Linked DNA regions of Homo sapiens. The protein of the gene in region 1 interacts with the protein of each later gene in a biochemical or structural test. Each region holds a gene or a part of one and is shown on either strand. Other genes may lie near its edges.

Evidence for each region.
Region 2: of the proteins of SCG3 (region 1) and FAM20C, one has a biochemical effect on the other in vitro, tested with the Homo sapiens proteins (one large-scale study listed by IntAct).

What each region holds. Positions count from the first base shown.
Region 1 is NC_000015.10:51,680,143-51,684,421, forward strand, and holds the start of SCG3 (secretogranin-3 isoform 1 precursor), read left to right. Parts: upstream 1-1,360; 5' UTR 1,361-1,613; coding exon 1,614-1,695; intron 1,696-2,374; coding exon 2,375-2,427; intron 2,428-2,936; coding exon 2,937-2,982; intron 2,983-3,076; coding exon 3,077-3,292; intron 3,293-4,279. UniProt on the Homo sapiens protein: Member of the granin protein family that regulates the biogenesis of secretory granules. Acts as a sorting receptor for intragranular proteins including chromogranin A/CHGA. May also play a role in angiogenesis.
Region 2 is NC_000007.14:251,372-255,184, forward strand, and holds part of FAM20C (extracellular serine/threonine protein kinase FAM20C precursor), read left to right. Parts: intron 1-760; exon of another isoform or gene 761-1,272; intron 1,273-3,813. UniProt on the Homo sapiens protein: Golgi serine/threonine protein kinase that phosphorylates secretory pathway proteins within Ser-x-Glu/pSer motifs and plays a key role in biomineralization of bones and teeth.

The DNA.
Region 1 (4,279 bases):
AAAGAAAAGGAAACTAAGGAAATATACCCTTCATTCAGCTGGGATTTTAAAATATGACTTAATTTTTTAATGCAGTATACTGGGATAATAATGCTATGTTATTACTGCCAATAAAGAGTTTTTTGTTTTGAAGGAGCTGTTAGATTTAGAATACTCTTTAGATCCTCAAAGGAAGTATTTGAGTGACTTCCAAACTCAAAAACCTCCGGAGCAAGGGAGATTTGTTTGTCAGCTTGGTTGTTTGTTTGTTTTTAGGTACTTGAATAACTTCCTCCTTGAAAAGGAGGGTGCAGAAATCAAAGGCCTGATTGTGCTGAATCCTTCTCTTTGGTCATTATTCAGACTGGTTCCCAGCATGCCGCAGTCCAGAGGAAAAGGTCCAAGTTCTGTTTAAAAATCAGAGACTAAAGAGCTTACTCAGCATCCTGCTCACATTAATGTTGCTTGTTTTCATCATTTAAAGTCTTTTGATAGTTCCTTGTATACAATAACCTTAGGCTTCTGGGAATATTCTCAGAACATAGGAAGCACCTCCCTGACTTAGTAAAGATGAAAAATGCTTTTCATGACTATCCCCTCTCTTGAAGGACCCCCTGGAACAGCCAGGTCTTTGGGCATAATTAAATTCTGGGCAAGATTTTACAGAAATGCAGCTTCTTTTTTCTAATTTAGTTGTGTGGTGTGTGTGTGTAAAGTGGGGGAGGTTCCACTTGGTGGGGAAAGGAGAATTTGCCATTGCTGCTCGTCTACTCAGGACTGTTTCTGTTGTTGTTGTGTTTCAGCATCAGAGAGTGAGAGTGTATTGCAGCAATCTGACTATTTGGAAGACTGTTCCTTGAATTTCCCAATTCAAAAGCCTCGGTAGAGCTGAGGGATGCTTGATACGTCAACACAGACCACAAAAGGCAGGGCTTTTCTAAAGAGATTATAATTATATCTACCTTTTGGGTACAGGAGGTGAATGGAAGGAAGGGATTCTGGAGCAGATATCCCAAAAGAAGAATCCCGAAGCAGAACTCCTCGCACAAGGTTATCTAAATCTCCTTGACAGGTGCACAGGCAGAGAAGGCATTTGGCCCTTGAAGTAACATTTACTTGAGAGGTTGGGACAATTCTGTCACGCTTAGGACAAGCCAGCTGACCCTGAGCCCAGGAGCACCCTAGGACTGCAGCACAGAAAATACACCAGCTGGCCGGTCGCCCCTCCTTTGTTCCATTCCCGGGGGATTGGAGTAGCGTTGGAGTCACCGACGCCATCCCCTCCCGCCTCTGGCGTGCATGGAGCATGCGCTTCCTTCCTCACTTCCTCTGCAGGAGGGAGCGAGAGTAAAGCTACGCCCTGGCGCGCAGTCTCCGCGTCACAGGAACTTCAGCACCCACAGGGCGGACAGCGCTCCCCTCTACCTGGAGACTTGACTCCCGCGCGCCCCAACCCTGCTTATCCCTTGACCGTCGAGTGTCAGAGATCCTGCAGCCGCCCAGTCCCGGCCCCTCTCCCGCCCCACACCCACCCTCCTGGCTCTTCCTGTTTTTACTCCTCCTTTTCATTCATAACAAAAGCTACAGCTCCAGGAGCCCAGCGCCGGGCTGTGACCCAAGCCGAGCGTGGAAGAATGGGGTTCCTCGGGACCGGCACTTGGATTCTGGTGTTAGTGCTCCCGATTCAAGCTTTCCCCAAACCTGGAGGAAGCCAAGGTATGTGAACACTTTTCTTCTTCCTACCTTCCTTTTATTTCGCCACGAAAAGGTAAAGTTTGGCATAATACGTGAGCTGTAAATCACCCTGACGCGTTTTCTGATCAAATCATATCCATGAATACGGACAGAGAAATCAGTTCGAATTTAGAGACAGAAGACAGATTTTTTTTCTTCACTTTTAAAATGATAGAGCAATAATATGGGTTGTTTTTAAAGATCTTATTTTGAAAAGGGAAGGGAACCTTTTTCACCTAAAGTGGCTTGGATTGTTTTCTAGTTGCCTTACAACCTTTCTCAGACAGTCTATTCATTATATATGCAGTATATGATGAAAGAGCTTTTAGTGTGCCAATAATACCAATCCAAATTATGCTCTCTCTAGCTGAGAATAGCTGATAACCCTAGTGTTAGAACTATATGTTAAATTTCTGGTCAGAAAAAAAAAAAAGTGTGATTCTGTCAGCTCAAGAAATACACCAAGATAATAAACAAGGCAATATTGATAATTACTATTATTGTATAATCTTGATAATCTTTGTTAATATGCATTTGTTTCATAGTCATCCAAAATTATTTCTCCTAATATTTTTCCTTTTTATAAAAATTTTATTTAATAAGAGGCATATTTTGTCCTTCAACGCACAATTAAATTTATATTCACATGTGTTTATTCTAGACAAATCTCTACATAATAGAGAATTAAGTGCAGAAAGACCTTTGAATGAACAGGTAGGTCAAAAGTAACATTATGAATGCTATTTCATTTTGATTTAGTTATTATTATTTAATGTAATTATGCTGTGACATTTTGGTCATTTTGAATTTACAAACATCAGGAACTTAATAGTTAATTGACAGAAATTAGGACGGGAAATCTAGTTTTGGTAAATTCTATGCCCTAGCAGTTATTTACATTGAGTTCTGTATAATGAATACATAGAGTAACTATATAATAACCCAGTAAGCTCAGCATCACATCCACTCTGTTGTAAGATTGCCTAATTTACCAGAGATTTCTCTTTCAACAATATTATAGGAGAAAGAAATTAACACTGACTGAGCATCTACCCTTAATTTTATCTCATTTAATTATTATAACAGTGCTCTGAAATAGGAATTATCCACATTTTACAAACAAGACAATTAAATCCCATGGAGATTAAATCATTTGGCTCTTGTACTTGGTAAGTAGTGGAGCAATGATTTTAAACCAAGTCTATCTCCTGTTTGCTTCACAGATTGCTGAAGCAGAAGAAGACAAGATTAAAAAAACATATCCTCCAGGTAAAAAGAAATCATATTGATGTTAATTTAAATAATGTAGGCTATGAGAATCTGAACTAAAATGGCTGTGTTGGGTTTGGGGCTATTCTTCCAGAAAACAAGCCAGGTCAGAGCAACTATTCTTTTGTTGATAACTTGAACCTGCTAAAGGCAATAACAGAAAAGGAAAAAATTGAGAAAGAAAGACAATCTATAAGAAGCTCCCCACTTGATAATAAGTTGAATGTGGAAGATGTTGATTCAACCAAGAATCGAAAACTGATCGATGATTATGACTCTACTAAGAGTGGATTGGATCATAAATTTCAAGGTAAATGAGAAAAAAAGAACTTTTTGTTAACGTGGAGTTTCCTATAATGGGTTAAGAGAAAGTCCAATATTTTAAAAATATCTTTTAAACATTCATAATCCTTTATTAGTCAAGTCCAAAATTGAGATAAAGCATATATTTACTGATAACATGTAGAGCCCCAGCTCCACAGAGTGCCATATTTTATTTTCCCTTTAAAAATTCCTTTAGTGATGCTCTGAAAACATTTTTTAATCTAGTATTTGTATTTTATGGTATTAAATTCATTTGAACATTCAGATTTATTTTAACAATGAGTACACACAAAATATCATAATTTTCAAATAATTAGATCAGTAAAGTACCCTCCCACCCTGCACAAAAAAGGTGAAATATCCACTATTTCCTTTTCAGTGTTTCCTCCTAGCCATATCTTTTCTCCTTAGGTCATCCTAACCTTTACGTGGCTTCAATTACATCTATATCCTAACATCCCATATCACTAGGCCAGACTTCTCTTAGCTATAGACCTATTTATCTGTTTACCTATTCGACATTTTCCCTTGGCAGTGTCAGAAGCACCTCAAATTTAGCATGCCCATGATTAAACTCATAATCTGTGTCCACTTCACAACCTAGACCTCTTAGAGTACTGTTTCTTTAGGAAAGGCACTACTATCCATCCAGTTTTTTAAAGACAGAAATCTAGGATCAAACTATTTATCTTTTCCCTCACCTCTCAAATTCTAATCTGCCAAAACTTACTAATTTTATGTCTGTGTATCTCTCAATTGTTTTTCTCTGTACTTGTCCAAACTCCAATCCTTGTCCAAGCTCCAATTATGTCTCATGTAAACTATAGCAAAATCTACAGTTCTCCCAGCAACCACTCCGCCTCTCCCCAACTCATTCTTCATTTGGCAGCCAATGTGGTAGTTTCCTTACCCGAAGTCAGGAGTTCAAGACCAACCTGGCCAACATGGTGAAACCCCATCTCTACTAAAAATA
Region 2 (3,813 bases), on another chromosome or scaffold:
GCCAGGTCTGGTGGCATGCATCTGTGATTCCAGCAACTCAGGAGGCTGAGGCAGGAGGATGGCTTGAGCCCAGCAGGTCTAGGCTGCAGTGAGCTATGATCGGGCACCACTGCACTCCAGCCTGGGTGACAGAGTGAGACCCCGTCTCAAAAAAAAAAAAGACTGAGTTGATTATTAGTCCAAGCAGGTGAATTAAGTCACCTCTATGTCCCATGTTGGCTGACACTTGGAATCCCCAGGTCCTCAGCAGGCCAGGGACGGTGGTCACCGGAGTGCCCCTGAGCTCTGTGCTGCAAGGCGGCCATCGACCACCTTTGGTGCCGTTGCTGGAATCCCTTCTCACGTCTCCCTGGAGCCAGCACTTTATTAAGCGCTCCAGCAGCTTCCCTGGCCACTCCTGGTTCTGGATATTAGTTGCGTTTTCCAGGGCAGCGCAAGTTTCTCCCCTGAAATCCAAGACTTCCTCGGCCACCAGAGGCCCCAACAGTTCCATGTCCCTGCCTGGACAGACGAGTCCTTGAATCTCCCAGAGCAGCCAGGCCCAGCATTGTCAGGCGCCCCTGAACGCAGCCCCTGGAACCCCACTGCTGCCACTCCAGCCGCGCTGCCCTGTCAGTCCGATTTCTTCCAGAAGCCTCTGTGAGCATTTGACTTTCTCTCAAGCAGCAGGGGCCCAGGAGCCCGGATTCCTCTCCTAGAGAACAAAATCTGTTCAGATTCGTTTGCTCCACTTTGCTTTGCATGTGTCTCCCAACCACAGATGCCAGGTGACCTCAGAGGCCCTGCCGGAGCCAAGGGCACATCAGAGGGCTGAGCCCACTGTAGACACCCCCTCGGCCTCCCGACCAAGGATGCCAGGTCATCTCGGAGGCCCTGCCGGAGCCGAGGGCACATCAGAGGGCTGAGCCCACTGTAGACACCCCCTCGGCCTCCCGACCAAGGATGCCAGGTCATCTCGGAGGCCCTGCCAGAGCCGAGGGCACATCAGAGGGCTGAGCCCACTGTAGACACCCCCTCGGCCTTCCGACCAAGGATGCCAGGTCATCTCGGAGGCCCTGCTGGAGCCCAGAGCACATTGGAGGGCTGAGCCCACTGCAGACACCCCCTCGGCCTCCCAACCACGGATGCCAGGTGGTCTCGGAAGCCCTGCTGGAGCCCAGAGCACATTGGAGGGCTGAGCCCACTGCAGACACCCCCTCGGCCTCCCGTGGCCTGAGTGACCCTCCCGTGGGGTCAATCAGAAAAGGGAAAATCCCATCAGCCAGGAACAAGGTGAGGGGGCGAGAGGTGGCCAAGGCCAGTGCTCGGGGAAGGTGGGCTCTGGGAGGGAGAAGCAGGAGGCTGAGCCCCAGGCAGCCCCCTGCCCCACGTAGGGATTGTGGAGCTCAGGTTCAGAGAGGGCAATTAGGACCCCAGCACCGCACAGCTGTGTAGGGGCCGGGCCGCAGTCAGAGCCCACATCTTCTAAGCCCCAAACGCTCACAGAACACACTCCCCTACTTCTCACGTAAGTTACCGTCTGCACGTTGCAAACGTCCCAGAGGTGCACAGGTCATCCGTGCACAGCTTTGCATTTCTGCAAGGTGAGCGCCCCCAGGACCAGGCCCAGGTCCTCAGCAGCTCCGGAAGCCACTCAGCCCGACACAGCCTGGACAGAAGGGCTTTGCCATCATCCGCTTCGCCTTTTTTCCTGCCACGGTGGCCTGGGCTGGGCAGGGCGGTCCTCAGGACTCTCTCCAGTGCTGCGTCCAGCTTAAATGCAGGTTGCAGGAGACACGTTTCCAGCGATGGACCCAGTTCGGGCACCCAGAGCCGCTGCCCTAAGTAACAGTGTCCGCCGGGCCCGCAGCTGTCCAGGGCACAGCTGTCCAAGGTGGCAGATGGCAGACGTCCGCCTTGCAAAACGCTCCTCCTGCTGGGTCAGCCCCGACACAGTCAGCGAAAGGAATGGTGGGAGACGCTTGAGCCGCAGGGTGAAGGAGCCATCTTCGTCCTTGCCAGGAGCCACACTCTTGCCTGTCTGCGCTCTCCGGGAGGCCAACCGTGATGCCATTTCCTGGTGACTGGAGGAGGCAGGATCTCTCCTGGGTTTGTCCGCTACCCTGGCTTTCTCCTTGCTGTTTGTGTCTTTTATTATTACTAAAATGGAAAAGGACTCACGCTCCTTCCTCCCAGAAAGCCCCCACTCCAAGTGCAGGGCAGCCTTCGTTACCTGGACAGCTGCCTCCCGTGGCTTCTTTGTGTAATTCCCAGCCCGTGATGCCGGCGTTGCTGGGACCCCCGCTTCCCGGGCGAGGGGCTGGGCACAGAGCAGGGAGGCACTTGCCTGAGGTCACACAGCTCCAAGCCCTCCTAACCCCGCCCGGGAGGCCCCTTTAATACCCGATTTGGATCTGCAAAGAGAAATGGCTGTGGGCCCGAGAAATGCCTTTCTCTTTTAACACGATACCATCTGAAACCGGCTTAGGCGAGGACGGGAGGCTGTTAACAGCAGACGAATTTTAAGCCTCCAGCCAATGAGCGCTCAGATGAAGATTTTCCTCCTGAAATGGAGCTCCTGCCCCGGTGGGGGCTGCCTCGTCCGACTGTGGGCTGCCGACTAATCTGTATCAGCACGAGACAGGATTGCAGCTGGTCTTTCCTTGATCGTTCGTTCTTACAATAATGACCCAGCGTTGGCAGTGGGGTGAGGGGGCGCGGGAAGGAGGGGGCAGGCAGGTGATCGGGGCGTTGGAACCAGACCAGCCGGGACCTGCCGGGTGCGTGGGGTGTGGTGGGGGCCAGGTCGGCCTGGCACCCACCCCGTTTCCTCTCCGAACCTCAGCTTGTTCAGCTAAGAAAGGGCAGCCGGGACCGGCCACCCTCCTGTTCACTCCGCTGGGAAGCGCCCTGCCGAACCTGCCTTCTGATCCCACGGGGAGCCTGCCCTGCAGCCAGGAGAGACCCCTGGAATCACTCAGCCTGGCTGCATAGGAATGCTGGGACTGGGGGAGCTGTGAGTGAGGTTCGGGGCTCCGGCCCCAACAAAACCACGTTCTCACCAGTTCTACAGCCCCAGGCTTTCCAGAGTTTCTCCACAAACAAATAAAGCAAGAAAAACTAGATTTAATCAGCAAATAAATACAGGAATAGCGCCGTCGGCCGGGCCTCCAGCATCAGAGCAGTGAACCCGCACTGCTAGCGGGCCTGGACAGCGCTTGCATTTTTCTGATTATTCTTTCTTTATTAAGGTATAATTCATGTACCACAAAATTTACCATTTAAAAGCGTACAGTTCCGTGGTTTTTAGTATATCCACAATGGTGTGCAACCATCACCACTGTCTAAATCCAGAATGTCCTGCTGACCCCAAAAAGGAGCCCCGTACCATGAGCAGGCGGTCACCGTTCCTCACCCCGCAGCCCTCGACGAGCAGCGTCCCACCCCCAGTCTATCTGGATTTGCCTGTTCTGGGCGTTTCATATTAAGAGGGTCATACGACGTGTGGCCTCCTCTGTCTGGCCTCCTTCGCGGAGCACAGGGTTCTCGGGTTCAGTGAGGGCTTCATTCCTCTTCTTGTTTCATTTCGTTTCGTGTCATCGCACGGATGGACCATGTTCACCTGGCGTGTCCACTCCTCTCTTGATGGACATTTGGGTGGATTCTCTCTTTTTCGGCTGTGGTGAGCGGTGCTGCTGTGAGCATTCGTGTCTGAGTTTTTGTATAGAAATGTTTTCTCTTCTCTTAGGGGTTTACATGGGAGGGGAGTTCCTGGGTCACGTGGAAACACTGTGTTTAATCAGTTGGGGGCTGCAGACCGTTTCCGCCGTGGCT